Linked DNA regions of Homo sapiens: regions 2, 3 and 4 are each reported to be linked to region 1. The links are microRNA targets in miRTarBase. Many come from high-throughput screens and were not tested one by one. Region 1 holds a microRNA gene; each other region holds the end of a gene's coding sequence.
The links. The annotated mature microRNA hsa-miR-607 reads GUUCAAAUCCAGAUCUAUAAC and lies in region 1 at 4,154-4,174, opposite strand. An mRNA with a match to its seed (bases 2 to 7 or 8) in the 3' UTR can be bound and repressed. Matches are read on the target gene's strand: a 7mer-m8 pairs with bases 2 to 8, a 7mer-A1 pairs with bases 2 to 7 and ends in A, and an 8mer does both.

Region 1 (7,671 bases):
TCATAATAAACATAAAACATACGTCTACACAAAAACTTGTACACAAATGTTCACAGCTGCATATTCATAATAGCCAAAAAGTGAAAACAATGAAAATATACATCAACTGAAATACATAAACAAAATTTTGTATCTAAATGATGAAATATTTAACAAGAAAAAATTAAAAAATAGATATAGGCCAGGCTCAGTGGTTCATGGCTGTAATCCCAGCACTTTGGGAGGCCAAGACTGATGGATCACTTGAGGTCAGGAGTGCGAGACTAGTCTGGCCAACATGATGAAACCCTGTCTCTACTAAAAATACAAAAATTAGCTGGGTGTGGTGGTGCACAACTGTAATCACAGCTATTTGGGAGGCTGAGACAGGAGAATCACTTGAACCGAGAGGCAGAGGTTGCAGTGAACCAAAATAGTGCCATTGCACTCCAGCCTGGGCGACAGAGTGAAACTCCATCTCAAATAATAAAAATAAAAAGTAAATACAGATACATACTACAACATAGATCAACCTTTGTTTAACAGGTTGCTATGAAAAAACTATATAGATGAACCTTAAAAACATGCTAAGTGAAAGCAGCCAGTCACAAAATACCGCATATTGGCTGGGCACAGTGACTAATGCCTATAATCCCAGCACTTTGGGAGGAGGCTGAGGTGGGCGGAACACTCGAGCCCAGGAGTTCGAGACCAGCCTGGGCAACATGGTGAAACCTGTCTTTGCAAAGAAAAAAAAAAAAAATCCCTCCAAAATTAGCCAGGCTTGGTGGCACATGCCTGTAGTCCCAGCTACTCCAGAGGCTGAGGTGGGAGGATTACTTAAGCTCAGGAGGCAGAGGCTGCAGTGAGCCAAGATTGCACCACTGCACTCCAGCCTGGGCACCAGACCAAGACTGTGTCAGAAAAAAAAAATCACATATTGCATGATTTTATTTATGTGAAATGTCCAGAATAAGAAAACTCATAGAGAAAAAACTAGATTTGGCCAGGCACGGTGGCTCACGCCTGTAATCCCAGCACTTTGGGAGGCAGAGGCGGGTGGATCATGAGGTCAGGAGATCGAGACCATCCTGGCTAACACAGTGAAACCCCGCGTCTACTAAAAATACAAAAAATTAGCCGGGCGTGGTGGCGGGCGCCTGTAGCCCCAGCTACTCGGGAGGCTGAGGCAGGAGAATGGCGTGAACCCGGGAGGCGGAGCTTGCAGTGAGCCGAGATTGCATCGCTGCACTCCAGCCTGGGCGACAGAGCGAGACTCTGTCTCAAAAAAAAAAAAAAAAAAAAAAAGAAAAAACTAGATTTGTTGTTGCCAGCGGGTGAGGAGATGGGGAATGATGAATAACTGCTGATATTTCAGGGTTTCTTTCTGGGGTGATGAAATGTTCTAAAAGTGATTGTGGTGATGGTTGCACAACTTTGTGAATATACGAAAACCCCCTGAAGTGTACATTTTATTCTTTTATTATTTTGTAATGGTACTAAGTTCTAAAGATAGTAGAAAAGCTAATATCATCAAGTTCCTTAAATGATAGTAAGAAAACCTTCCGGGCTGGGCGTGGTGGTGGGTGCCTGTAATCCCAGCTACTTGGGAGGGTGAGGCAAGAGAACTGCTTGAACCCGGGAGGTGGAGGTTGCAGAAAGCTGAGATTGTGCCACTGCACTCCAGCCTGTGTGATAGAGTGAGACTCTGTCTCAAAAAAAAAAAAAAAAAGAAAGAAAGAAAGAAAAGAAGGAAAGAAGGAAAGAAGAAAGAAAGAAAAGAAAAGAAAGAAAGACTTCTGATGCCAGAAGCCCCCTCCATCAACAATCTGTCGAGCAATGTTCTTCACTCAGAGGCTCCCATCTGACACTAGGTAGGGAAGGCGTTGGTGCCCTTTGCCCATAACTAGCCCATGACAGAATGCTGCCTTGGACAGAGCCCTCACTCACTCCAAAGAGGCCAGGAATGCTAGGTAGGGAGGAATTTACATGCCTAGGCCAGCTCTGGACCAGCCCCAGTCCTATGGTACAGAGAAGGACAGTGGCAGCTAACGAGCTTGGAAAAGTCCAAAGCCAGCCTTGTTTAACACCAGTAACAATTTTACCTCTACACTGAGGGCTAACATGCATCCAATTCCAGTTCCTCTTTCTCCATCTAAGTAACTCCAGAGGTGGCACTAAGCCTGGCCCACTCACACAATCTAGGACAGAGCAATAGTCAGACATCTCAATGGGCTCAGCTTCCCAGTAATAGGAGTTACTGAGAACAGCACTGGGGGAGCCTCTGTCCATGTCAAAAAGGAGCATCTAAGAGGGGTTACTGCCATAACTCCATCCTTCTTGCTGTGCTTTGAGAAACAGAAGCCAAATCCTACCTCCCTTCAAAGAGCTCTAGTTGCTATGGGAACCAATCCCACCCCCCACTTGAGTCCCGAGACTTAGGAGGGTATGGAGCCAGGAGGAGGCTCCCGGGTGTCTCAAGAGCAGCCACACTTCTCTATCAAGGATGCGTTCACACAGTGAACGCTCATCTTACGTTCGTCATCCTGGACCGTTAGGGAGAAGAGAATGACCTTGGTGGGACTACAGGTCTGAAAGAGCCAGGAACAGATCAATAGGCACTCCCCTCTTATAGTGCAAACTTTGAGTGCAAAGTTGGATTGATGAAGCTCACTGTTGAGGGTCAGGCAGGTCCCCTGACAGTAAGGGAAGCTGGAAGTCTTGGGTGCAACAATACACTCACCGCAGGCAGCTCTGTGAAGGTTCACCTTGCAATCCTGCAGATGACAGAGCTTCTCTGCTGGAAATATATCCTGGCCATGGTCTATCTCCCCATGATTCTGGCATGGGATCCCCAGAGTCAGCTGCTCCACAGTAGGGATAAAGCATTTCTGGACGTAAGGCAGGTGAAACAGAGGTGGCTGTGTTGGGGACAAGGTCATGAACAGCAACACTATGTCTCACTTGCCTTTGATACTAAAACACTGGTTCAGGCTGGGGTCAGACGCATTAGTAGCTGTAATCTTTTCCTCTGCCAAGAGGGTGGGCACCACCTCCATCCAATATATTAGTAAACAGTAGATCTCCAATAATGATCCTCCTTTCTGACTGGTAGGATGAAAAGATAATGGGGAAAGAGCCCAAGAGGAATCTTTCGCAGTTGGTGGTGGTTGGGGGGCAGGGGTTGATGGGTCTTGAACTCTAGAACAAGCTTAGTGGCATGGGGATAGTGGACACCCAAACCCATAGCTATATCAAGGAAACCTCCAAGAAGGGAACTGCCTCAAAACAGACAAGCCAGTAGCTGTGTAGGAACTAGGAGCTTTTGGATGTGAGGGTAAAACCATGTTGCCAGGCAGAAAAGATCTCATTTATGCAGAAAGGCAGCACCCGGCTGGGACAGTCAAACATTTCTACCATGCTAAAACATGCGCCAAAGACCCAGAGCCAAGAGCCCAGGAAAAAGCCAAGAGATGCCACTCCTCCCACTGCCTGCTTTCAGATGAAGTGGACACTTCAAATGGGCGAATTTTATGGTATGTGAAATATATCTCAATAAAACTACAGAAGAAAAATAAATGTCACACGTACAACATAAAGTAAAATCATACATGTTTTCTAGGCCAGTGGCATAGAGGTATACAGGCTGAAAAGAGAGAAACTCTGAAAGTTATTTATTTATTGAAACAGGGTCTTGCTTTGTTGCCCAGGCTGGAGTGCAGTGGCATGATATCAGCTCACTGCAACCTCTGCTTCCCGGCTTCAAGTGATTTTCCTGCTTCAGCCTCCAAAGAAGCTGGGATTACAGGTGCACCCCATACCCAGCTAATTTTTTTTGTATTTTTGGTAGAGACAGTGTTTCACCATGCTGTCCAGGCTGGTCTCGAACTCCTGACCTCAAGTGATCCTCCCGGCTTGGTCTCCCAAAGTGCTGAAATTACAGGCGTGAGCCACCATGCCCGGCCTGAAAGTCTTTTATTAAGCAAAAAAAGCCACTACATGAGTAGTTTCTCAAAAAGACCAAAAGCCGTGTGACCAAGTGACATGGCTTCCTTTCTGTCTGGCTAGGTCTTGTCTCTGACTTAGGTCTCATTTCCCCGAAATAGCACTGGAAGCAAAAAATAGTGTGATGGTTAAAGAGCCGGCTTTAAGTAACTCGCCCAAAGTCACACAAGTTATAGATCTGGATTTGAACCCAGGCAGTCTGGCTCCCTGGGTTCCAATCCAGATCTATAACCTGTGTGACTTTAGGCAAGTTACTTAACCTCTCTGTGCTCTGTTATAAAATGGGATACACGATTGGGTTGTTGCGAAGAATAAATAACATAATCTTTGAAACGTGCTTCAAAAAGCATCTCTTGCTTGTTGGAATTTATTTGAAGTTGACTATGTTTTTTTAAAAAAGCCTCCCATTAGGACATGCTTTTTTTAGAAGGCCCCAATCATTTCATCCTCCCATTTGTCAATGATCATTTCTATGTTGCAAGCCATCTTTAATCAGACACCAGGTAGTAGTTGATCTAATGCTGACAAGCCAAGTCCTACTCCCCTTCCCTGACATTCCTTTTCTGCCATTGTGAGAACTATAGAACATGGCTCAGAGGTTGTTTTCAAAGGCTGAGGTCATTGCTATCATTCCTTCATACTCTCACAGATTAACTCCAAACTGCAGAAGCATCTTGGTTTCCCATCATCCTGCAGACTGGGCAAACAGATAGGAGCTTAGGAAGGCCTAATCAGAGAACAGATGCTCATTTCATGCTAAGAATGTGCTAGCACTGTACGTGAATAGTTTCATTTCATTTTCACACAAACCCCATCTTGCAGACTATTATTATCCTCTTTTTCACATGAGGAAATTAATGACCAGAAAAGTTAATATGTCAAGGTCACACAGCCACTGAAAAATGGAGCCAGAATTCCAACCCAGCTGTCTTCAGACCCTATTAACTGCCATGTTATATTACCTGCCCCTCCCTAGAATGTAAGAGTTTACAGCTAAGGCCCTCTTTAACAGTAGCCCAAAGCAACAGAGGTCAGAAATTCTGTCTTATCTATCTATGTCCTCGGTGCCTGGGACACCGCCTGCCATGTGATAGGAACACAGAATGTCCAACTGCTTAACTGTGCTCGGAACATGTCATGTAGAGTTAAGTGAATCCTCCAGTTGCAGAGTCTATTTTCTACTTGTAAGACTATTTATTTATTTACTTATTATTTATTTATTTATCAAGATGGAGTCTCAGCTCTGTCGCCCAGGCTGGAGTGCAGTGGCACGATCTCGGCTCACTGCCACCTCCACTTCCTGGGTTCAACGGATTCTCCTGCCTCAGCCTCTTGAGTAGCTGGGATTACAGGTGCCCACCACCATGCCTAGCTAATTTTTGTATTTTTAGTGGAGACGGGGTTTCACCATGTTGGCCAGGCTGGTCTTGAACTCCTGACCTCAAGTGATCTGCCCACTTCAGCCTCCCAAAGTGCAGAGATTACAGGCGTGAGCCACCGCGCCAAGCCAACTTTCTACTTGTAAGACAATTTAGAGGGGTTTAGAGTCACAGAGATCTTAGTTAGAATTTGGTAGCTATGTGATCTTGACAAATGTATTTAACTCATCTGAGTCTTGTGTCCCTAACTTGGAAAATGTGGTAAATATATACTCATAGCATTATTATCTGGATGGAATGAAACAATGATAAACATATAATAGGTGCTCAATGAATATTAGCTGTTACTATTGCCTCCCTATCCTTTCTTCCAAATAGGTCTTTGTGATAGGTCAACCATGAGTTAGTTCCCAACTCAAAATAAGTGAAGCAGAAATTGGAACTCAGAGTAGAGTAGTAAAACTAGCATTAAATTGGAAATTGGGAAACTTGTCTCCTGGCTTTTGTTGCCCTTTCTCTACCCAGCAACTATGTAATCTTGGTCAAATCACCTTACTTGTCTGGGCTTCCAATTTCATATCTTAAGTTACAAAATTGATCTCTGAAGCCTCTAGGATTCTCTGAATCCATATGTCTGGGACTAAGAGATTATGTCGAGGAATTATTACCCTTGGTTTGATTGTTTTTTAAACAAATTAACTTGGGGTGGTTGGAAAACACATTGATTATTTACTCATCTTAGAGTTACACGTTGTTCATTTATTTGAAACTGAAACGTATTTCCTCCAAACACCGTAGAAACTTAAAGGCCGCAAAAGACTCACACCCACCACCTAGCGGCGAAAAAAGGAAGTTTCAGGTGATACAAGATGTCCTGCCATCACACCTGAAGGATGGTTGTCCACAGCCATTTTTTAAAATCTCGTATTAGTCCTCTTCCTTCAACACTCAGGACAGTATTATGTACCCAGAAACTCAATACTTCCTGGCGTCTTCATTTGACAATACTCTTAAGCCAATGAAATCCTGTGGGACGTTTGCGAATTTTATAAAGATCAATGTTTTAAGATTGGCGGGGTGGGCTGGGAGTGGTGGGGGGGAAGGTGCCTTCCTACCCTTGCATTTGCATCTCAAGCCACCCGTACCCGAGGCCCACCCAGTCCATCTGTTCATTGGTAGATACACCATTCCGCCATTCCGCCAGTGGCTGGTGCAGAGAACCAGGACCACCACCTTTGAAAAGACCTAAATCAATACTCCAATGGGATCCTGATGTCAAGTATTTAACGACTTTGCTTTACCTACTACAGTAATTAAAATTAAGTCTTCAAACTTAAATTTAAATTTCTAAAAGCAGGAATGCACTGTCCTTAATCTTAAACACCAAAGGTGGGAGAAAGAGGCCAGAATCCTAGGGTACTAGGCCTACTGGTATAGGGCGATCTCTTCTGCTTTTTTCTTTCCACCCCATTTCTTTTCCCTTTCTCCTTTCGTTTCCCATCTTCTCTCTTCTCGTTCTCTTCGAAGTAACAGTGACAAAATTAAGGTGATTCAATTATTCCAAGAGGCTTGCTCATATAAAATATTTCTCTTCAAGCCCTTTCCTGAAATCCCAAATTAAAGCATTTCCAATAGTCTCTGCTTTAAGTATTCCTAGTTAAGTCTACTTTTGGAAATATTAAATATTCTCACTTTGGCACAATATTCCAAAATTCCTTGAGAAGTTCGCCTACGATCAGTCTTGCTAGTAGAAACCTTTTTTTTTTTTTATTTAAAACGCTCGATTTCCACTTTTTACTAGGTTTCCCAATGTTGGCGATGTCTCCCAATGACTTAATAACGTGTATCCACTTCACCTTTGAAAATCTTAGAGGTCAGTGCATCCACCGGCATCCGGGAATTTATTCTTATTTCTGCTTCTTAAACAGGCTCTGGGGAGGAGCAGTTTCGACGGAGAAGTTCATAGCAGCAGTTATTACGGAACTTGCAACAGTTGGTGCCGGGCGATAGGCAGGTTGGAAGTGATAAATGGGGCTGGCGTAAAAAACAAAAAGCCCCGGGGAGGGCGGGGGCAGCCGTGGCCTTGGGGGACAGTGCGAAGGCGGCGCGGGGCCAGCGGGACTGACTTCCGGCTGTGGGAAGGCGCCGTCCCGGGCGGCCAGAGGCGGCGGCAGCCGCGTAGAAGGACGGCGGGATCGCAGCCCGGCGGGCGGCGCGCGGGGCGGGTGAGCGGGCCCAGGCCGCCCCCGGGCCACGCCGGGGCCACGGTGAGGTGAGGCCGGCCCTGCCCCCGCACCGCCCCCGGCAG
Region 2 (7,762 bases), not on the chromosome of region 1:
ATGTGTAGCTTTTCTTTCCTTATTTTTTAAAATTTTTGATAAGATGTCCATTCCATTTTTCTAGAAATGCCCTTAATATTATATGATTGTAACAGTCTTGAAACTATTCATAGCTTGATTTTTGTTTTAGTTTTAAGCTGTGATCATCTTTCCAATAATCTATTATATATAAATAAACTTTTATGCTCAAAAGTGTTCATGACAATACCACAGTATGAGATGGTCAAACTAATTAAGTCAATTATGGTGGACTGCTGTGCAGCATTTAAAACCTTTTCATAGAATTTTTTAAACCCAGAAATATATGTACTAAATAAACAGCATAGAAAACTGTATATGAATGTGTAATATGTATGTATTTTACATATTACACAAAAACCAAAACACATATAGACAAATATTGGAAGGAAATAAGCCATATATTAATGGTTTTTCTCTCCATAAGATAGGATTATGGGTGATTTATTTCTTTAATTATTTTTATGTTTTCTATAATGACTGCATGTTACTCATTATACAAAATTCTAATTTTTTTAGAAAAATTAAGATAAATTATATAAAAAATAAGAGTTCTCAAAAAGTCAAAGGACATGTATATTTCATTTTAAGGGAATAAATATACAGATATTATTGTTTGGCTTTCAGGAAGTATGTGGAAGACTTCTTTGTCATCCAGAACAAAAATCAAATTTTTTCTCTTTTATAGGACTCTGGAAGGAAAAACTATATTTCTTTACATTCAGCCTAAAATTGCATGAGTATGTGTATGATTGTTACAATGTAATTACTCTTATTTTTTTATTCTTAGTTCTGTGTTTGATTCTTTCTCTTCTTTCCCTATGCCATATCCATTTTAGCTACTTATAAGCACTTTTAGGTTTACAATTTTGAAATCTAAACAATGTTTATTCTAAGATTTGATTTTATTTAAATATGAATGATACCTGGACTGATTCCAAGAAATTGTAGTGCTTTTCTCCCTCTTCATTTTTCTTTTCAGTTGGGGTGAAGCAACATCTGATTTGAGATAGTGTATGATAAAATTAAATAAATTTAAATTTAAGTTTGAGTCTTAGCCATAACAGTTAGTAGCCTAGCCCTGAACTGTTGCACACAGTATTTCATTTATCTAAACCATAATATCCTCTTTTATAAAAATAGAATAATAACAGAATTATTATCAGAATCTTATGGAATAATATGTATAAAATACCCATCACAGTACCTTGCATGTAGTAATTATTGATAATTATTATTGTTATACTTTTGTTATCTCTATCCTCTTATTCAAGAACTGCTTTCATTAGATTACTTAAAACTATTGCATGTGTTAATGTTGCCTAAAGTCACAAATACTTTTATTTTTCTTTCTTTTTCCAATAGCTAAAAAAGGAAGTAGAGATGAAAGGTGTGTGGAGCATGCCATCAAAATACTCTGAAGAAGGAGTTTATAACGTTCAGTACAGTTTCATTAAAGAAGCTGAACATCACTGCTTGTTACATAGCCCAATTCCTGTGAACTGCCCCATAAGATTGCTCCATGGCATGAAGGATGACATTGTACCTTGGCATACATCAATGCAGGTTGCCGATCGAGTACTCAGCACAGATGTGGATGTCATCCTCCGAAAACACAGTGATCACCGAATGAGGGAAAAAGCAGACATTCAACTTCTTGTTTACACTATTGATGACTTAATTGATAAGCTCTCAACTATAGTTAACTAGTATCACATGTTTAGTTGGTATGTAAACTAATGTATCCAGAAGATTGGAAGAGGGATAAGAAATGAAAGATCCTGATACTTTAGGTTTTTCCCTTTCCTCTATTTTGTAAATATAAGATGAGTATTATTTAATGATGTATTTGCATAAGTAATGCAAATTGTGAAGAAGGACCAGCTGCTGTTTAGAAAATTTTCTCCTTCCTTCTGTCCTTGATTTTTTTTCATTAAAGTATTTCCTTTTTTTAATTCAAGAAAAGTTTACCTTTCTTATGCTTATGTTAGCTATGCCAGCTCTTAATTGCATCCTTTTCTAATTAGGATTATTAATAAAGCGTGAATATTTTGTTTTTTATTATAGACAGAAATTTGTAACATTACTTCTGATTTGAAAATGCAATTCACAAAATATAGGGAAATTTTTATTGAAGTAAATTTGAAATGATGGAGAAATTTCAGAAGCATAATAAAGTTCACAATAAGGATAATACTTTATATAATGTATAAAGTATATATAATATAATATATATGTTATATAAACTGCACATTATATTCAAACTTAAAATTGAGCTTTTTTTTTAAAGGCCCAAAATTGTACAGTGATACAAGGAGCTATTTCTAAAATTTGGCTTATGTATAATATATTTAAATGGGGAATTTCATCTAAAACAATGATGTAGTATTTTTAATATTCTGATTGGTAAAATTAAAGAGGAAATTAATCTTTATATATTATTTCTTGCAGAAACATTCATTATTTTATTAATATTGCCCTAAGTACAACTAGGCAAGTGATTGCCACCTAAATCAGAAGACGTTCTAAAGTCAGTAAGAAAGTGTGAAATGCTAGTATAAAGGTTATTTTTTTTCTTTCCTAAATAACTAAAGTGAGGTGTAGATTGAGCCTTGATATTATTTAGTTAATGTTTTTTATTAATTAATTTTGGCTGGACTTTATTTAGCTTGATTAGGTTATTATCTGTCAAACCTTTTAAGTTGACAACATGACTCATATATATACATGTGTATAAGATGAGCATGTGTCGAAGACTTATTCGACTCATTAATGAGGAAACCAGCAGATAGTAAACCTGGTTCAAAGTACAATTCAAGAAACTGAGTATTTATGGGCATTGAAGAAAAAATGTTGAGATAAAATTGCTGTGCAGAAAAAAGTGTTAATGAAGCCGACCTGACTACTTAACCTTAGAGACCTGCTTTACAAGGTTGGCCCTTGATTGGCATCTGGGAACTTGGAGTTCAGGGGGCTTCCACCATTCCCAGAACTGATCAAAGTAGCTTACTATATCTAAACTGTAAAACAATATAGTTTCTCCTGAACACCTGCTTTCCTTCTGGGAGTCTGGAATTTTGGTATGTGCCAGGCAGAGACTACCTTTGTGACCAGCTCCCAGTAAAAACCCCAGGCACTCAGTCTCTAACAAGCTTTTCTGGTTGACAGTGTTTCACAAGTGCTGTTACAACTGGTTGCTGGGAGAATTAAGCTCATCCTCTGTGATTCCACTGGCGGAGGATTCTTGGAAGCTTGCACTTAGTTTCCCCTGACTTCACCCCATGTGTCTTTTTTCCTTTGCTGATTTTGTTTTGTATCCTTTCACTGTAATAAATCATGGCCGTGAGCAGAACTGTATGTGGAGTCTTATGAGTCTTCCTAGCAAATCTTCAAATTTGGGGGTGGTGGTGAGGGCCTCTCCACAGATACAAAACTGGTTTATGTCCTACGGGGCAATTAAACTACAATCCATGGGTTATCTTTTATACTGGACAAAAATTACAAACAGCAAAGATAAATCATCTATGAGTGCCACAGTCTCTGGTGCTGGAGTGGGTTGATAGAAGATGGCACTGGCTATTCAAGGACTTACTTTGCCTAGACATTGCTAGGTGTGAGGCTTGTTAGGAACATGAAGGCAAGGGCCCTTGCCAATGATGGTTTTCTGCGCAAAATAATAAATATGATTTGAGATTTATAATACATATGTAGAGACAGTATAGCATAATGGTTAAGGTCAGAGACAAGCTTGGTTTTTAATTTTGGCTCACCATTTACTAGCTCTGTGACTGAGCAGTTAACCTCACTGAGTCTCAGTCTCTTCTGTAAAATAACATAAACCTAGATAATGCGGTGTAAGGTCTAAATAAGCACAATACATTTAGAACAATGACACAGGAGGCAGTATCTTTTTGCTTTTCATTATGTACAGAACACAGTCCCTTCAGAGACTGATGGACACAATCAATGAAGGCATAGGAAGGAAGGTGGAGGCAAGGAAGTGGGTAGGTCTTCTAAAGCTGAACTGAACTGGACTGGATTTGACCTTCCTGACCTCAAGATCCCAAATAGGAATGTTGTATGGTATTCTTTCAAATGCTAATGGTTTAAAACAAAAAAGGAGAAGGAACCTTTATTACCTAAAGTTAGGAAAATCTTTTAAAATTTAATCTAGCTTTGCAGAGGTTAACATCGCAAATTCCAAATGAGTTTGCATCCATGAGATTTAGTGTATTTTAGTGCGCTGTTAATTATTTGTTTTTTCTAGTTTTCCCCAAAGCTCCTTTCTGAAACCGTTCCATCCCATGTATTTAGTGACGTGTAAAATGGAGGAATAACTGGGAGCCCTTCAGTGCCTTAGCCCCTGGAACTTAGTCATTATTTAAAATAAGTGACACGACCCCTCTAAATCTCAGTATGCACAACAGAAAGGGATAAGGCAAATACCATTTGAAAAGAAGGCTAAGTGAAGCCACGTAATCTATTTTGCTTTTGCTACATCTGTTGAGATTAGAGGCATTTCCAGATACAAATCTAAAAAGTACACCATTCTCCAAACAGCCAATATAGAAACGTCTCTGGAGAATGAGAAGAAAAAAGCTCTGGGCAACACTGAGTTTTATAAAATATGGAGATAGAAAGCTGAAAGAATTACTTGCCACATAACTATTCCCAGGATAGTCCCCAAAGCGAATATGTCAAATACTCATTAAATTTGGAACAGTTAAATCTAAAGAATTTTTATATTCTGGGGTTGAGGTGGGTGGAATTTCAATATACCTTTTTAAGATCCTCTAAATATAGATCTCAAGTACTTCTTAGTTTAGAAACAATCGTGGAGATGTGTAATGGTTGGATGAAAAAAATGTGATGCTTTGGTGTATTTAGAGAATATACCTAGAAAATTGCAGGCAATTTTTTTTAACCAAATGTATCTTTTGGGGAAAATATACATTCCCATTTTGTCTTCCCCTTTTCCTAGGCTTTCAGGGTTTTGCAGGTAAACTTCTACTAAAGAAGAAGCTCAAAAGTCAGTCTCTCAGAATCCTTTCCTTACTCATCCCCATCTCTCTTTTTCAGGAAGTTTGTTGCTGGGTCCTCTGGGCTCTCTTGTGAACAGTACTCTATCCATGCCTTTTTGGTACCACTTGCTGCTTTGAAATTCTCAGTTTATATCCTAGCTTCCTTCTCTCAAAGGATGACCAAGGTCAGAAGCTTTATTTTGACATTGTTTGTCCTCAGACACCTCTGACTATGCTATATCAACCCCTTTACTGGCTCCTCCTCCTTGCCCACCTTATAATGTTAATACTCCTTGAGTTCTGGCCTTGGCAGTCTTCTCTTGCTACTTATTCACCTTGAGGAACATCACCCATGTTCATGGTTTAAACTACTACCTGCTTGCAGGTGACTCAACTACATACCTACAATCTAGACTCTTGAGCTCCAGACCCATAAAACCAACTGCCTAATGAACTGGGATGGACCATGGGCTTCCCAAATGCAGTAAATCCAAACCTTATTATCTTTTCTGCTTTATGTCTCTCCCCACCTATGAGTCCTCTTAAAATAAATGGCGCCACCATTGCTTCTGTTATACAAGTCAAACTTGTGAGTCATTCTGTCTCCTTTTCCTTTACCCAAATCAGATTGATGATCCTCTCTCTCTATGAAAAAGCTCAAACTCTTGCATGATATGTGAGTCCATGAAAGGCTGGTTTAACAAACAAAAACCAGTTGCTGAAAGCCAGTTTAACAACTGGCTTTTGGTGGTGGGGTGGAAGCCCTGATTTGTAGCATTTGCTAACATTCACAGCATAAATATTCCTGCCCTGGCTGGTTTTAAACTACATCATGACATCTCTGAATGCAAAGCTGGAAGAAAATACCCAGTAGCACACCATCACATAGTATTTACACCATATAGAGACAATAAACGCAAATATCCTCAACATAGCTAACAGTAAAATGTAGCAAAAAAATCAGGAAGTGCTTCATTTTTAGTAACTTTTCTTTGTAATATAACTTATTTAAGAGTAAGTTAATATAACCTTATTGCTAAGAATGACTGAGTTTAGCATCTGTCTCTTGAAATTCCTGAAAATTTAACCATGGGCACTTGCAAACACACCATTTTATAATCTGGAGCCTGCCTGACATTCCAGCCTCATTTTTCTTTCTATGTTTCTCTTCTCTTTAACCCTATGTTTTATTAATACTGGAAGATTTTCACCTTAAATACACTTCTTTTGACAGCAACATTCCCTACCCCTCTTGCCTCACTCTATCCACCTGGCAAACACCTACTTGTCTTTCAAGACTTAAAATAATCTCATTTATAAATCTGTCCCCTGATTCCTTAACACCCTCCTCCAGGTATTATTGTACCAACCTGAGTTCTTTGTGCATAATTTTAGCATGACATCTGGCATTTATTGTTTACAAGTTTAACTTCGTTACTAAACCAAATTGTCATGTATCATTTATTTTTGTGTCTCAGCTATACACATAGGCCCTTAAAAAGTTGTTGAGGCCAGGCGCGGTGGCTCACGCCTGTAATCCCAGCTCTTTGGGAGGCTGAGGCGGGCGGATCACGAGGTCAGGAGATTGAGACCATCCTGGCTAACATGGTGAAAACCCCGTCTCTACTAAAAATACAAAAATAAGCTAGTTGTGGTGGCTCATGCCTGTAATCCTCGCTACTTAGGAGGCTGAGGCAGGAGAATCACTTGAACTAGGGAGTCAGAGGTTGCAGTGAGCTGAGATCACACCATTGCGCCCCAGCCTGGCCACAGAGTGAGACTCCGAATCAAAAAAAAAGAAAGAAAAAGTTGTTGAAAACATTAACTATAATACTAGTAGGCACTTAGTAAATGTGGCATTGAGCTGATTTCCACTGTCACCCCTGAGGAGATGAAGCATTTTTTCTCTGAAGACTTCCTCTGGATTTCTGGACACTTCCATGCCCTGCTGTGGCCCCTCTCTTTGCCATTGTATCCTCTCTAGAAGCATGGGCCCAGTCATTCACTTAAAGCACACCAGCTACTCTGTTATAATATGAGGGACTCTTTGGGTACAAAAGATTTGCAAAACACAGTGTTTAAAAAAAGTCAAGCAAATGTACATCTTTAGAATTGTTTCAAGCTTTGCATATCAAACCAACAACTTCCTTAGAGCCATTCCAGCCATGGAAAAAATTATGTGGTTTCTGTTTGGGACTCCGTTCCCTTAGTCTAAGGTTGGAACTAGCCTTATGGCTCCTCCCCAAGATACCAATGATGACTTCCATAATTCTTCTGTCAATTTCCCTGCTCTAAGCTCTTCCCCTAAGCTCCAAGTGTCCCAACACAGTGCTGCTGTCTTTTGAGCTTCTTCAACTGATGATTCCATGCAGCATCAAGACCTGCCTTAGTCAGCCCTTCCCTTGTCTCTTCCTAAACCTACTGCTCTCCTGAATCTCCTAGTTTTCTGTTTTCAGAGGACTGTCTGCCAGGCCTTCAACGACTGACCGCTAAGTCTTTTTCAGGCAAACCACCCACATATCTCCTAAGTAATTAAATTTTCATTAGTCCAGGCATCAGCCGGTAGGAGATTTTTCTCAATACATGTATTATTTGAGGAGTCATTTCCTGCATAGCTTCTAATCAATTTCCCACAGGGACAAAGATCATCATCCCATGTACCCAGAATTGCTTTATTTAATATGCTTGAGTCAATTTATCAATCTGTTTTCAATGCAAGAATT
Region 3 (7,762 bases), not on the chromosome of region 1:
TAATGCTTACAGTATTGGACAGCGTAGATCTAAACCAACACTTATGAAGCAAGCCAATCATCACAGAAAAGTACCAAACAAAATTTTAAGTGGCATCCAAGATTATTCATGAATCTCTTAATTATTACTTCCAAATAGTGACATATCTGTTAAGTCATCTTATGCTACTTAAAATTATAATTTAGAAAAGGCATCTTTGTGAGTGAAACTGGCCTTTAGCTTCTGTTTAAAGAAAAACATAAAGCTGTGCTGCCAAAGATGAAAAACTCATGTGAAATTAATAAAATACAATCTCAATTTTTCAGAAAGCAAAGATGATTTGTTCTTTCAACAGGCACATAAAATATATTATCTACCAAACTTATATAAAAAATGATCCCAGTTATGAGGCAAAAGAATCTATGTGCACAAGAGACTGAAAGGAAGCATGCCAAAATGTTTACTGTGGATATTCTATGGCTTATAGAGTTATAAGGGTGATTTTTCTTTTCTTCTTGATTCCTTTCAGGATATTCCAAGTTTTCTATAAAGAATATGCTTTACTTTTACAACTAGGGAAAGAAAGACAGAAAAATATATATAACATTTAAAGGGCAAAACAATATAGCTGTTTATTTTACAGGCTAAAATATCAAGATGAAAAGCTCTGATCCCAAATCATCCATTTTACCTATATTCTGTCACTTTTACTAAAAGCAGAGTTCTACTCATCCCAGTGAAAAAAACAATGAATTAAAAGTAATTTCTGGCGTTAACCCAAGTACCGAGTTAAGACTCCTTAAGAATATAGAATTATGTAATCAACTTAGATAATTCAAAGCCCAATGATATAACTAAGTTCTTTGACGATTGAGCACACATTGTTTCCTTACTTATCTTTAAACATTCCTAGTCCAATTACTCCCTAGCATAATACCATTTATAAATGAGGATGAGTTTACAATGGTTTCTGTAACCAAAAAGTATTTCTAATATCTGTCCTCTGCCACATATTTTTAAATTATCTTTTCCATTAGCAGAAATGGGCAACATAAGCAATAAATCATGTTAAGTCTGTTGCTACAAATTTACTTTGCCAAAATTTTTGTTCAGAGGGCAGATATCTGCATTATTTAAGGACATTTAGTCATTTGTAGCTAACACCTGAAGTAAACTACCCTCAATCAATTTTTATATTTCAGTCTAGTCACTGTAGACAAACTATTTAAATCTTTTATAATTTACTTTGTGTAGTTATTTGGCTTAAAAAAAAAAAAAGAGGGCTCACATTCTATTTAAATTAAGACAATATATTTTATAAAGCCCAAATTATAGTACACTAAGAGCCAGAGGGGTCTAGGGAATTGATCTCAGTGGGTATACAGCAAAGACAAAATTTGGAGGCAGACGCTAAAGGAAGTTGAGATAAATAAAATTCAAATCAGTGTATTAACAGAACTACACAAATGTTTACAACACAGTAACTACACTTTTCAATTAGTTCATTGTGAAAACTGAGCAAAATATTTTCAACAATTTTGGGTCAACAAAAAGTATGGAATATTTTAAGACAATAAAGAGTGACTGGTGTTGAGAGTACTGAGGCTACACAGAGGTACTGAAATTCAAATCTGAAAAATACTGTGCTGGCCACACAACACTACAAATTTCTAATGGAAGAATTCCCTTTTTGATCCGCAGCTTAGGTGGTAAGTAAATAAAAAAACAGCTCAGAAAAACAGCAAAAATATTAACATTTAGGAGTCTCAAAACTTTGTATTGGCTGTGAGTCTGGGGGAAAAAAACATAAATGTCATACTACCAATTAAACTTTCAAGAGTCATCAGATTATTTAGCTTTAAAATTTTACTAAATCAGACCTTAAACTACACATTCAAAATGCTGAACTAGATAATCACATATTAAAAAGGTAATGACTCATTATCAGTGAATTACCCAGTCTGTTCTATCAAAGTAGTAGTTAAGGTCACCAAATAATGTTGGTGCCTTTGGTTCTGGAATTATAACTAGCTGTACTGTAGGAGCATCAGCGCCTAAGTTTTAAGCCAGTGGGAATACTCTGCTGCCTGGCTTCACAGGCACTGAATACACTTAAAATGGTAAGAAACTGAATGGATTTAATAAGTTTTGAATAATACAATAACCAACTGTATATTTATTATGAAGTAAAAGCCAATCTCCTACCCAATCCCTCTTCTATCAGCTGCACATTTCCAAGTAAGTGAGATAAAATGACTCAATCTAAACCACGTGAAGGAATGTATTAACATAATCCAACAAAAATGAAATAAAACAATCCAGAGTTTTGAGTGTTTTTTCACACTTGTAATAAACTGAAAAAATATTTCAATTAAAACAACCATATGCCACAAAAAGCCACTCCCATCATCCACAATACTAAAGTCCTTATACAACACTAGATAAATTTTTATATAAAACAGTAGAAACTAGCATACCATTAATTAGAAACCTCAAAATATTCAGAAAACAGTATCAAGTACTCAAGAGAAAGCTCAAGAAGCCAAAACCTCAAGAATCCATACATCCTGGTTGTTACCCTAAATTGTAATTAACTACCCACACATTTAATCATAATCAACTTTTTCAAAGATATACAAATCAATGCATCTATTTAAAAGGACTACTCTTTATAGTTCAGAACTTTACATTAACTTTTATATTCTACTCAGCAGGGTGTCTGTCTGTACTCCAAATTAGCTCTCATGTTCCAGGAAATAAATACAAACTCATATGCCTTGTGATCACTGATGGCCTGCTTATGTAATTCTAGTCCACTAAATGTTAATTCCATAGAATATGCTCTTGATTATGTAAAAACTCTAATTTCTTGATGAAATACTGTAATTCTCCAAAGGTTACAATTTTGTAAAGATATGCAATAACTGAGTATCACTCCCATGAAAGACAAAAAAAGTATAATTTTGTTCCAAGATTAACTTAGTCTCATGTATCTCTATTAAGTCTTTCAAGGATTCCAGAGAATCTTTTCATATCTCCATTTCTGGAAAGTGAAATCAGTATAGAAGTAATTTGGGAACTTGAAAATGGCATTCATTTTTTTCAGCAGATGCCAAATTTTTGACCGACATGGTTCTCACAATTACTTTGTTACCAACAGTCCAGTCAGTTAACAGGTTGTAGGAAAAGATTCGTTTTTGCAGACACTGCTAAGCTGTTCAAAGAGAAGAGAGAGAGATTAATTTAGTGATTATAAAATGCACAAATATTTAAAATATTTTGAACACTTCTTGTTGGATTATATCAGAGGTGTGACTACATTTTAACAAAAGTGGACTTTTTAAGATAAGTCTGGTCAAAGAAGTGCAGAAACAGTAAGTCAATATGATAGAAATAGTAGGTCAAAATATGATGTGTTAGTTCAATTAATGTATGAACTCCTGCCACCATCAAAAGACAAATATTAAAAAGCTACATCTTTAGTCTAGTTCTGTATTTTACCAGAGGCACATTTAGAAGAAAAACAAAAGGGTCACCCAAATACTAAATTGTTTTCAACCATTACAGTAAATAGAGCCAAACCTAGAAATTTCAAAAACAATCCATTTTATATTCCAGAAATCTCCTTTATCCATGTGCTAATCATCCAGAACACAATTTTCTAAAAATAGTAAGACAACAGTTTCACATTAATCATAACTTTTTTAATTAACAAGTAGTGAATCGGACACTTTAAGATATTGTTTACTACATACTGAAATAAACAGATCTGTTTAAATTCAGAAACCCAAACATTTACAGTAAAATGTGCTTACACATAAATATGACCAAATTTATTTAAAGCCCCTATTAGATAGATCCTAAGTACATGCAATTACCATGTAAAAACAAGACCATGAAGTTGATGTAAAAAATGACAAAATCACTAAGTCACCAAAACTAGAAAAAAAAAAATGAAATGGAAACTGAGAAAAGACAGTTAATAAAACATAAGGAACCTAACAAAGCAGCTTTAAAAATAGGCCATACTAATCCTTCCATTTTCAAAAGTTCTTATCAAGTAATTCCAAAAACTGCCATTTATAAAATGACATTCTAAAAATCTACACTTGGAATTTCAAAGTATCTCAATTCAGAAAGCTTTGACTACTGTTTCTCCCCAGCCCACAATTTCAAATAATGCAGGAAAAGTATTGACGTAAGGAAGAAAATACTCCAACAGAATGTTATAGTTTTTAGAAAAATGAACTTACTGCTTTCCAGAACCTTTTAAGACCCACAGTCAGCATTAACAATCATTTTTCCTATTTTCATCCATTATTTTCCAATATCATGTTAGAGATGAATAAATTCTTTGAGCCCATAACTAAAAGATCAACAAACCTGGTTTTATTATGACACCATATTTTTGTCATTGGTACTGCACAAAATTATATACAAAGAAATATATACAAAATGTTCAAGTATTAGTTAAATTTCAATTCAAGGCTTCTGTTTCAAAAAAGCTACATTTAACATATTTCATAAAGATAGCACAAATTAGTCATTTCAAATAATCTTTCCAACTACTTTTGGTTTATATATATATATATATATGTATATATATATATAATTCAGTAGGCACTAAAAACCCATGCAGCTGCATTGTGAGGGGCTTGCTCCTGCCCTTAGGTATAAGCAGGTTCATCACTCCAATTTGTGAGTTTGGCTACTACCCATTCATGCTCAAGTGCAGTAGTAGATGATTTTACAAAATATGCTGTGATGCACTGGAAACCAAAGACCAATTCAGGTCTCAAATCGTATTATCTAGCAACAAAACATTTACAGTTGTGCAAGAACAAGGATTCCATTTTCATAACCAAATAACAAAATAAAACATTTTATGTGTAAGATAACTTACATCTTTGGACTGCTGGAAAATACTTTTTAATTATGAACATGTTAAAAATAAAAAACAGCAGAAGCCCTGATATTACCTCTTTTTCCTCATTTCTTATACTACCTTTTAAAATAAAGCAGGAAATGTGGCCAGCAGCTGGTCCCGTCTCTTCTGCCCCAACAGCTGTATCCACTTTAGCACAAAGAAAAACAAGGATGCTAAATACGTATATACTTTATCAAGCAGTGATGTTTCACAAAGAATTTCTTAATGCCTCTTACACTGAAGGACACCATAATTCAATTTATACAACTGGTTAATAGATTCAAGGGAATAAATCCCACCTTAGGAAAATAGTACCAATCGTGTCATTTAAGTGGCCAGAACCACTCAATTTAAAAAATTATTTTAAAATAGGACAAATACTTTTGAAACACAGAGAATAAGATTCTTTGTGAAGCCTCACTTTACACGTTTTCATTCACATTTCACAACCTTCAATATCTAATCATACATATATAAATTTAACCTAAAATTTTAATACAACAAAAATAAAGATGTTCAACAATTTATTCAATCTCAGTGATAGGGTAATCACTGCTGGTCCTCAAAGAAACATTAGCCATTCTTATTCTCCAATTAACTAAAACGCAGGAGTCTCATATGTATGTTAATTTCCAACTTCTCTAATGGTGAGACATTAAAATGTTACTCCATTATAGACTGTTTCTATATCTCATACTGAAAACTAAAAGGCATTGTTGATATTTAAGAGATACCTGTCACCTCCAGCAAAATAACTATCACATTTGTGCATGCCCCAAATACTTAACTGTCAACCTCTGAAAAGTTGCCCTAAAATCGGAATTCCAATTTGCACCTTGTACAACTCGGAACTTCCATTCAACTTCACCTGTTTCACTGTCTCCAAACTGTCTCTCTATAAGCAGGTTTCAGTGTACAGTTGGAACCGATGTCATCCAAGGCCATGTCCACACTGGGGACAGAAGAGCTAGGTACACGCAAGTCTGAATAAGGGGACACATTAATAGCTATTTCAACCAGAAGAGGCATCTTAAATACATTCTTGACCAGCACAAGTCTGTTTCCAGGGTGGACAGGGCCCAAATTAGATTTCCCTCCCACCTTCCAAAACAGAAAAAAAAAAAAAAATCACACACACACAAACTGAGATGTTGCCCATTAAAGTAGACAAAGCAGCAGAGCATGAGCGTTACGGGAAGAGATGGATCCTTACCAGGTTGTGAGGCGGGAACGACTGTTCTGTAACCCCTACAACGGAGCCTGGCAGGAAGGAAATCACCTAAAAAAGAAACTGTCAGAGAGATTTAATAGTCACATGTTATCATTAGGAGTTGGTTACTGTGTCACATTCATGCTTTTAGCTAAACACTTTAAGATTCAATATTACTTTTTTTCTCTCCTCTGAAATGTGTCCGGTGAAGATGTCCCACTAAGGTAAGTTTGACATGGTGTAAGGGAGTTGAAAGGGGTAAACGCGGATAAAGAGCAGATTACTTGACCCTACATTTTAAGAGAAGACGACGCCTTCCGGGCGCACGCCGAGCAGAACTCCACCGACACCTTATCCTTGTCCACATGGAGACAGACTCCTCCCGCCGAGTCGTCCTCTTCCAGCAGGTCCTGCTTCTGCTTTCCCACCGGCAGAGCGTAGTCGTGGTCACCGGCGGGCGAGTCTCTGAAGAGCGAGGTGGTCAGCCGCAGTCCCACGCCGCTCAGCCGGCTCAGCAAGCGAGCCAGTCCAGTCTCGTTGGCTAAGACTGCCCGTAGGTAGCGACTCTCCTCCTGCAGTGCCTGTACGCGTTTGCCCAGCTCCCGATTCTCGGCCCGCAGCTCCTGGTTCTCGGCTGCCAGACCCCGGACTCGACTCTCCAGCCCCATCACGTACTCCTTCTTCTTCAGTCGATTAAGGCGGGCAGCGGCCGCCGCCGCCTTCCGGGGACTCTTTGTCGCCGCCTGGTTGTTGTCGTTACCGCTGCCGCCACCGCCGCCTCCTCCTGGGGACTTTCTCCGCCTCTTTTCGGCGCTGCCACTGTCACTGCTGCTGCTGCAGCCTCCGATACCGTTTAACAGCCTTTGCAGCAGGTCAGAGAAGCGCTGCATTTCAGCAGCCGCGGCCTCATCGTCATCGTCCCCTCTCCACAGGCCGCCGCTATCCGAGCCTCCGCCAGACGAGGAGAGAGGCCCCGGCGAGCTAAGCCCGGGGTCCAGGTGCCAGTCCGGTTGCCTGGGGTCCAGGAGATCCGCCAGTTCCAGCCCAGACAGAAAGTCCATATCCTCCGTCTCTTCCCCCGGGAGGCTGGCGATCGCCTCCTCCTCCATCTCCTCGGGGGAGGGCGCGCGCACGGCCACGCCGCCGCGGCTCCCCCTCCCGGCTTCCAACTCTCCTTCGTCGCCAAACTGCTGCTTGCGGCCGGGAGATCCGGCCGCCGCCGTCTCCTCCTCCCCCGCTGCAGCCCGGGTCAGGTCAGAGGGCAGCGAACAAGTTGCAGCCGGCTCCGGGCTCTCACTGCGGGTTGGGGAGTTGCTGCCCGAGGCTGCCAGCAGCTTGGTCAGGCTATGCCTCATGAGGGCCAGCGGCGGGCCGCGGTAGGCCCCGGCCGCTAAGAGTGGGCCTCACGGGCCCCAAGGATCCCAGGCCCCAGGGCGGGTAGCCCCCGGCACTGGCCGAAACGAAATGCAGGGAAAGGTCCGAGTCGCCTCCCGCCTCACTTGGCTAGTCGACCCCCCGCGCCAAGGCGCGGGGAGGGACGGGAGAACGAAGCGGTGAGGCCCTGCGATGACTCGACCGCGCCACCCAGACAACGGCGTAGCCGGAAGTCAGTGGTTTTCGCCCCAGTCCCGCCCACCGCGTTTCGC
Region 4 (7,762 bases), not on the chromosome of region 1:
GGAATCCTGAAACATGCTAAACATCTCTCTCAAGCCAAATGTTATGCCATCTCCTGAAATTTTTCAAATTCCTAATATCTTTGTCTTCAGCATCTCATCTAATCCTGATTTTGTTGCTGCCTTCTAGGAACGATCATTCTAAAACTTCATCATGTTTAAATTATGTCTCTCTGCCCTCCCTTAATACAGATTATTATGCCCTCTTTGGTACTATATGCCATGGATGTGAATTTCCCATAGAAGCTGGTGACATGTTCCTGGAAGCTCTGGGCTACACCTGGCATGACACTTGCTTTGTATGCTCAGTAAGTAGAGTCTTATTTCCTAATTAAAGGGGTATAGTATGGCCAATTCTAGCTTTAGTATTTAATGGAAATATCAGCTTCTGGGTCTTTCAGTCCTTCAAACCTAAGGAAAAATTATTTTTAATTTTTTGTAAATTTCGAAAGTTGTTTATTAAATTTTTTGGCATTTTTGAAATTATTTGGCACACAGTGAGATCCTTAGTCCTTAGAGAAAATACAATTTTAATATATTTTTGTCTATAAGGAGAAGCTATGTATTTCTTAAAACAGTAAGATTCCTTTACTTAAAAAAAAAAAAACCTCTGTTACTGGAGTGTTTGTTGTAGTTTTTGGAAACGTTAGGTACTTCTTAAAATACAAATAAATAATTATAAAAATCGGCTATTGGATTAACACTGGGAATAAACTATATGTTGAGTCATTTCTTTTCTTAGCAATAGCCCCTGGATATTCTTTTCTTTTTGAGACTATGGTCCAATAAACGTGATAAAGTATTTGCCTATTCATTTGATATTTTAATATTTTTGGTTTTATGTTTAATGATTAGGATGGATTCAAATATTAAAATAAATAGTTTTTAAATGTAGGAAGTAAATATCCAGTAAACGTGCTCTGTTCAGGTGTTTGACTTTTTAAAATTAGATTTAACATATCTACAGTTTTCAATACTCATTGTACAAAGGGGGCAAAAGTAATATTAATCGGTGCTTAATGATTTCCCCAAACATTACCATTGAACTTTTGCTTGTTTACCTCATCCATCTCTTAGACTTCATAAAGTCTATAAAAAGCAGAACTTTTAGCAGATTTGCCTTTTCTTTTCTAATAAAGCTGTTCATTCTAATTAACAAAGGCAATAGGAAGAACAAGGAGCTGTAAATGTAGATAGTGGACTGACTGTATAATCCTCAGCAGCCAGATACTGACCTGGTTATAAGAAACAAACAAAAGAGGTCTCAGCTTGAACACAAGGCAGCCCTTAAAAAAAAAGGGTCTCAGGTATTCTGTGCCTGTGTAACTGGCAGCAAGCTAATGTTGGGCTTGGGAAGGTTTGGTAAAGCAAATGAGTCTCTACAACACAAAGCAAAATTAGGACGTTGTTTATAATTTGGGGAGATAAAATATATTTAACGAGCCCCCTTTCTATATTGATTTTCAAGTTAGGGATAAATCTTCCCTCTGGATAAAGAAAAGTGATGATCAGTGCTTTCTATAAATTAGAATACATTCTAGGAAAAAGCAATTTTTCATTGCTTTTGAAAGATTATATCTAATGTTATAGTAATCGTCAAATATTAGGGAGTCTAACTTAACCAACTAAAGTGTTTTGTCATATTATCCATTGGGGGGAAAAATCACTCTCTCCTTCTCCAGCATACTGGGTAAAATCCTCTTAATATCCTCTTAAATAATATCTCTTAAATGCTGCTTCTTTTTCAGGTGTGTTGTGAAAGTTTGGAAGGTCAGACCTTTTTCTCCAAGAAGGACAAGCCCCTGTGTAAGAAACATGCTCATTCTGTGAATTTTTGAAAGTCAACAGTTCAGGAGAAGAGAAGGAATTTGAAGAGAAAAAGGAAAATTAAAATTACTAATTAATTTTTAGATTCAATATTTATATGGAGTTTTGAAAAATAATAGTGGCCCTGAAGGAATAAATTCCAGCTTTAAAAACCAAGTCTGAGGAAATATTTGGCTTCATAAAGTAAAGAGACGGTTTGGCATTTATTATTACTTTTTCCTGTATTTTATGCCCATAAAATAAGCTTTATAAAAACCAATTTCCTGATGGACTATTAAATTCATCTTAGAATAAATTAGTGAAGAATTTAATTTTAGAATAAATAATCCAATCTGAAATAATTATACCTTCTTTCCTTGTTAGGTAGTTATGAGTAAATCTGCAAAAGGCAATGAAAATGCCTTAAATTTTATCAATAACAGAATTATTGTATTTAAAAAAAAACTAATACTTATCTTTAAAATAGTAAATAGGATTTTAAACAGAGAATTTTATCAGTAATAGGTGTCAGTTTTTAAAAAATTGCTTGTAGGCTGAGCGCGGTGGCTCACGCCTGTAATCCCAGCACTTTGGGAGGCCAAGGTGGGTGGACCACATGAGGTCAGGAGTTTGAGATCAGCCTGGCCAACATGGTGAAACCCCATCTCTACTAAAAATACAAAAATTAGCCGGACGCAGTGGCACGCGCCTGTAATCCCAGCTACTCAAGAGGCTGAGGCACGAGAATCACTTGAACCCGGGAGGGAGAGGTTGCAGTGAGCCAAGATCGTACCACTGCACTCCAGCCTGGGTGACAGAGTGAGACTCTGTCTCCAAAAAAAAACTTTGCTTGTATATTATTTTTGCCTTACAGTGGATCATTCTAGTAGGAAAGGACAATAAGATTTTTTATCAAAATGTGTCATGCCAGTAAGAGATGTTATATTCTTTTCTCATTTCTTCCCCACCCAAAAATAAGCTACCATATAGCTTATAAGTCTCAAATTTTTGCCTTTTACTAAAATGTGATTGTTTCTATTCATTGTGTATGCTTCATCACCTATATTAGGCAAATTCCATTTTTTTCCCTTGTGCTAAGGTAAAGATTTAATTAAATAATTTTGGCCTCTCATAGTTTTCTCTCTCTTTAAAGAGAATAAATAGAGGGCCAGGTGTGGTGGCTCACGCCTGTGATCCCAGCACTTTGGGAGGCCAAGACGGGCGGATCATGAGGTCAAGAGATCAAGATCATCCTGGCCAACATGGTGAAACCCTGTCTCTACTAAAAATACAAAAATGAGCTGGGCATGGTGGGGCGTGCCTGTAGTCCCATGTACTTGGGAGGCTGAGGCAGGAAAATTCTTGAACCCAGGAGACGGAAGTTGCAGTGAGCTGAGATCACACCACTGCACTCCAGCCTGGTGACAGAGCAAGACTCCGGCTCTTAAAAAAAAAAAAAAAAAAAAAAAAAGAGAGAGAGAGAATAAATAGAAAAGAATGTGGCTGGGAATTGTGAATCAGAAGATTATACCCCCCAATTGTTTTTCAATCCCCTTTTCTCAAATAATAAATTAGTTAAATCAGTTTCTGAGTTATGCCACTGGCTGATGAAGAGTTGAGAGGTCTCTTTGCAGAATGATCTTTTTGTTTCGTTTTGTTTCTTCTTCTGCATTTAAAAATTAAAAGATTGGTTTGAGGATGTGATGAAATTGAGACTTTTTGTGGTTTTCTCTCAATAATAAGTGAACCAATTTCAAATGTGATCACAAAGTTTGGAAAGCTTTTATTCACAGAGGTTGGGTAGTGTTGGGAGGGGAGTTTAATTACTCAGATTGGCCTGTTATTTGATTTCCTCCTTTGGGAAAAGAATTATGTAGATACCACATGGAGACAGGGAAACAATTGTGGTAAAACTGTGGATCCTGTTGCTATTTGCCCAGTGAGAAAACAGATTCTGGTATTTGATTTGGTTTTTCTCTTTGTTTCCAGAATGGATGAAAGTCCATGAACCTCCTAAGTTATAATTTAAATTTGTTTGGGGCAAGGTGATTTTATAGTCGAGACAGAGCCCTAGGTCCTTCCTGCCCCATCACTCACTTACGACATCACTTCCATTGTGTGCATGTTTGTTATAGAGGAGGTTTTAGGCTACAATATTTGTTTAACCTCCCTAAGAACTTTCAAGGCATCTGTCCTGAAAGCTGTTAATTTATGGTCTAGCAGATTTATATTATATGCAGATAATAATTAACTGGGGATAAAAGAATGGCAAGGGGTGACACAAAGTAGCAAACTGAATACTTCTCCAATAGCAACCCCAAGCTACCTCCTCACCCTGCATCTTGGAGGGAGGCAGGAAATTTCTTTTGAAATAAAGTGCTGGAGCTGAATTCTGCATTATTTATCGTTGCTGCTGAAACCACCTATAAAAGACTTGCTGGCTAATGTGCATTGTCATATAATGTACACTGTCACATCTTTACAGTCTTGTATGTTATAGAATACAAAATAAGTTGATGGTTTTGTTTGGTGTGAGCTTTTTGTTTGTTTGTTTAGTTTTGCCTTCATAGGTTATATGCCAAGATAGTATTTGATAAGTCAATGACATTTGGATGTTTTCTTCAAAGAATTTTATTTGACCCAGATTTCTTATAAAGTTATCTTACATTAAGGATGTCATTTTCATCAGACCTTCTTTCTACATATTATTCATGAAGCATAATGTTGCATTTCTCCAAATTTTATGCCTGAAAGGGTAGTGTTGCTTCCTAAGGTATCATGTTGTCTTTGTGCTTTGTCCATCTCTTCCGTGGCGAAGCTTTATATCTGTTCCTAAAACAGTTAATCCTGTGAAATAAATATTGAACATAATCCAGAAGAATCTCTCTGTTTCCCTTGGGGAATGCCATATTTAATTCACCAGCAGTAATCCTTTAATAACTGGCAGAGCACTTTATTCTTCTGGTGAGCTCCCTGAATATTTATTTTTCTGATTATAAATTTTCTATATTAGTAGCATTTTTTAATTATTACTTCTTCACTATAGAGCATTTACTTTTAGTCTCTAGATGTATATTTTGGAATGCTGTACTTGGCATAACATAGATTAAAATCATAATGCATGACTAAAAACTCCTTGGATTTATTTCCCATTTTAAAATTTTTAGCGGTAAGTTCAGATTTATAATCTTTCTCTAGACTTCCATGGTCTGAATGTTGCCTGCTGAAGTAGCAACCTAAAAAGTATCCCCTGCTTATGCTTGTCCAGTTGGCCCTCCATGTCCATAGGCTTCGCATCTGTGATTCAGCCCACTGTGGGTCAAAAATATTTGGGGAAAAAAATGGATGGTTGCGCCTTTGCTGAACATGTACAAACTTTTTTTTGTCATTAAACAATATAGTATAACAACTATTTACAAAGCATTTACATTGTATTAGCTATTATAGGTAATCTAGAGATGATTTAAAGTGTATGGTAGGATGTGCATAGGTTATATGCAAATACTACACCATTTTCTATAAGGGACTTGAACATCATGGACTTTAGTATCCTAGGGGGTTCTTGGAACCCATCACCCATAGGGGCACCATAGGACAACTATAGTACCGTGTTTATTTCCTATTAATTCAGGTTCCGTTTAGAGTCTAAAACTAAAACCTAATCATTTAGTCACAGTGTAAAAACAAATGGAAATAACAGCTCAAATCTTCAAAATATTACTATAGCATTATGTTTAAAATAATCTACAACAAAAATGTACCATTTTCAAGCAGTACTACATTAGGAGCCCTTTTATAGAAAATAATTTCTTCTTTACCCCCGTTCCAGTGTGAATCTAGTATTCTGTTAACATTTGTGTGGCATTTGGAGTTTGTCATCCCCATTGAAGGGAGAGCCTTCTCAGACATGAAGCAAGGGAAACATACTGAATAGTTTTACACAAATTTGATCTGGCTTCCATTTGTCCCCCTCATTTCCCAAATGTTTAAATGTATTGGATTTGGATTCTCAATGTATAAGTTGCCTTATCTGTTAATGTCTATCTTCTGTCTCTTTAATTTTGTATATCTGCTGTTTTGCTTTTGGATACATTTTCTAATTAGAAGTCACATGATAAATATAATCAGTATAGTAATAATACCATAATGTGCACATACTCAATAAATAAATGACTGCATTGTTGTAAATGAGCTCTCCTTTTTGTTGTTGTTGGTTGGCGAGTGGTTTCCATCAAGTCATCATGGGAAAATAATCAAGTTCCATATTCACAGGTTAGGATAGGATGTAATAATTCTCAGAAGAACCCTTCTAGTATGATATTTGCTTATCAAAATGTCTCAGAAACAAAATATTTGAAAATACTGTCACATTTATTGTATTTCTCTCTGTTCTTATGCCGTGCATGTAGAATGTACCCAATGTTTATGAATTAATAGATAAATAAGGTCTATTGTCTTTTGAAAATATTTATTGCTGAAATGATTTATTGGAACAACCTGTCATATCAAACATCATATTAGAACATAATCAAAGAACATAAATCATCATCCATATTTCCACATTTTGCATTAGATATTGGGATGCTTAACTCATCTCAATCTCATTAACTGACTATTCCACAACTAGGTAGGCTCACCTCTGCCTCATTTGTTTATTAGTTTAAGATATTTTTCCAACTGTATAAAGTTAAGACAGATGTTTCTGTTGCACGCTCTATGTTGGGAATAAAAGAGAAATTCAAGTCTATTTGCTCACAGTATATTAAACTCCAGAAGCCAAACTTTTAAGAGCATCAAGTCTGCATCTGACATTTTAATAGCTGCTGTTTGGTTTCTATCAATCACGTCATTGCACATTAAAATGCACCGACAAAATAAGAGATCTGTCATTCCTTCGTTAAGAAACAGTAATCCAGTACAAGATTTATAGGCTTAAGTCTCAACCGTGTGTTCACAATAAATCCCCATTCAGTGCTCAAACCAGAGCAAGCCTCCCTGTCGTTCAGTGTTTTCTAGTCGAAATGTCCCCAATATAAGATTATCAAAGGTTTTCTTACAGAACTACATATAAAATCCTTTTGCCAGCAAAAGCTTAATTTGGATTGGCGGTTTCCCTTTTTGGGTATGCTCAGACAAGATCTTGGTTATATCAGAAACACATAGGTACTGATGTATTATTAGCAGGCCTGGTGTTAATTAGGGAGAATTACCAGAAATAGTTTGCTTCGTGGAAATTTATTGCAGAATCACACTTGACTGATGGCAGAATAGGAGTTGCTGAGAGAGAGCAGCTCCCACTCATAACCACTAATTAATAGGGTGCCAAAATTCCGCAGAGAAAGTTTCATCCCAAGTGTGGGAGCCTCCCAGGGAAAATGGTTCTTTTGCAGTATTTAAAATTTAACAGAGGAAAGGTGCTAGGACACATGGCTACCTAACAGAAATCTCAGACTGATATGGTTTTGTGTTGTACGTATGAATGAGAGGATTTAACTCAGTAAGTACCGGGCCCAAATGTTGCCTGTGTATTTATCGTATATGGAGATATGCATATTATTTTTAATGCGGCAAGTGCCTGATTTGCCAAACTATTCATTTTCTGAGGAGAATTTACAGGACTGTATACCATTTGTCTATAGTATTATATTACAGAACTTTTGATTCTGTGATTTAGAATCTGTCTGGGTAGGTGGCAAGATTGCATCAATGATTAATAAGAAAGGTGTAGCCTTCATACCTTGAACACAGGGTTGGGGAAAAGTGAGATGCATTTTGTGATTTTCGCTAAAGGTAGAGCACTAGGGGAGCCCTTTTAAATAGAAGTTTGCCAAGAAGGCAATTTTTTTATTTTGTCCTGTCTGTGACTGCATGTAATAACACACAATAAAGCTTGGAGCTGTTGTTTAGTGTAGAATGGGATATTTCCATGTCCGAAAACCACTTGTCTGACCTTGGGGAG

Region 2: miRTarBase lists ABHD10 as a target of hsa-miR-607. Seed matches in the 3' UTR shown: 8mer at 2,111-2,118 and 8mer at 2,159-2,166.
Region 3: miRTarBase lists CREBZF as a target of hsa-miR-607. Seed matches in the 3' UTR shown: 8mer at 4,526-4,533, 7mer-A1 at 4,474-4,480, 8mer at 4,150-4,157, 7mer-A1 at 4,095-4,101, 7mer-A1 at 4,021-4,027, 7mer-A1 at 3,569-3,575 and 3 more.
Region 4: miRTarBase lists PDLIM5 as a target of hsa-miR-607. Seed matches in the 3' UTR shown: 7mer-m8 at 1,864-1,870, 7mer-A1 at 1,929-1,935 and 7mer-A1 at 4,169-4,175.

Annotation. Positions count from the first base shown.
Region 1 is chr10:96,824,531-96,832,201 of GRCh38, forward strand. MIR607 (microRNA 607) reads right to left here and starts at 4,234; the gene lies at 4,139-4,234. It overlaps LOC102723665 (a long non-coding RNA gene), which reads right to left. Exons shown (of 1, transcript NR_135921.1): 1 at 6,102-7,671. RefSeq lists a cis regulatory region at 6,116-6,315, silencers at 7,351-7,650, 7,671 and an enhancer at 7,577-7,671.
Region 2 is chr3:111,989,994-111,997,755 of GRCh38, forward strand. It overlaps ABHD10 (abhydrolase domain containing 10, depalmitoylase), which reads left to right. Exons shown (of 5, transcript NM_018394.4): 5 at 1,384-3,375. The coding sequence ends at 1,728. Among named protein-coding and RNA genes, the nearest start is that of TAGLN3, 5.0 kb to the right of the region's middle.
Region 3 is chr11:85,657,405-85,665,166 of GRCh38, forward strand. It overlaps CREBZF (CREB/ATF bZIP transcription factor), which reads right to left and starts at 7,725. Exons shown (of 1, transcript NM_001039618.4): 1 at 586-7,725. The coding sequence starts at 7,471. The coding sequence ends at 6,407. RefSeq lists enhancers at 6,349-6,588, 6,699-6,988, 7,259-7,308.
Region 4 is chr4:94,662,233-94,669,994 of GRCh38, forward strand. It overlaps PDLIM5 (PDZ and LIM domain 5), which reads left to right. Exons shown (of 13, transcript NM_006457.5): 12 at 190-305; 13 at 1,746-5,991. The coding sequence ends at 1,835. Among named protein-coding and RNA genes, the nearest start is that of BMPR1B-DT, 91 kb to the right of the region's middle. RefSeq lists an enhancer at 6,062-7,762.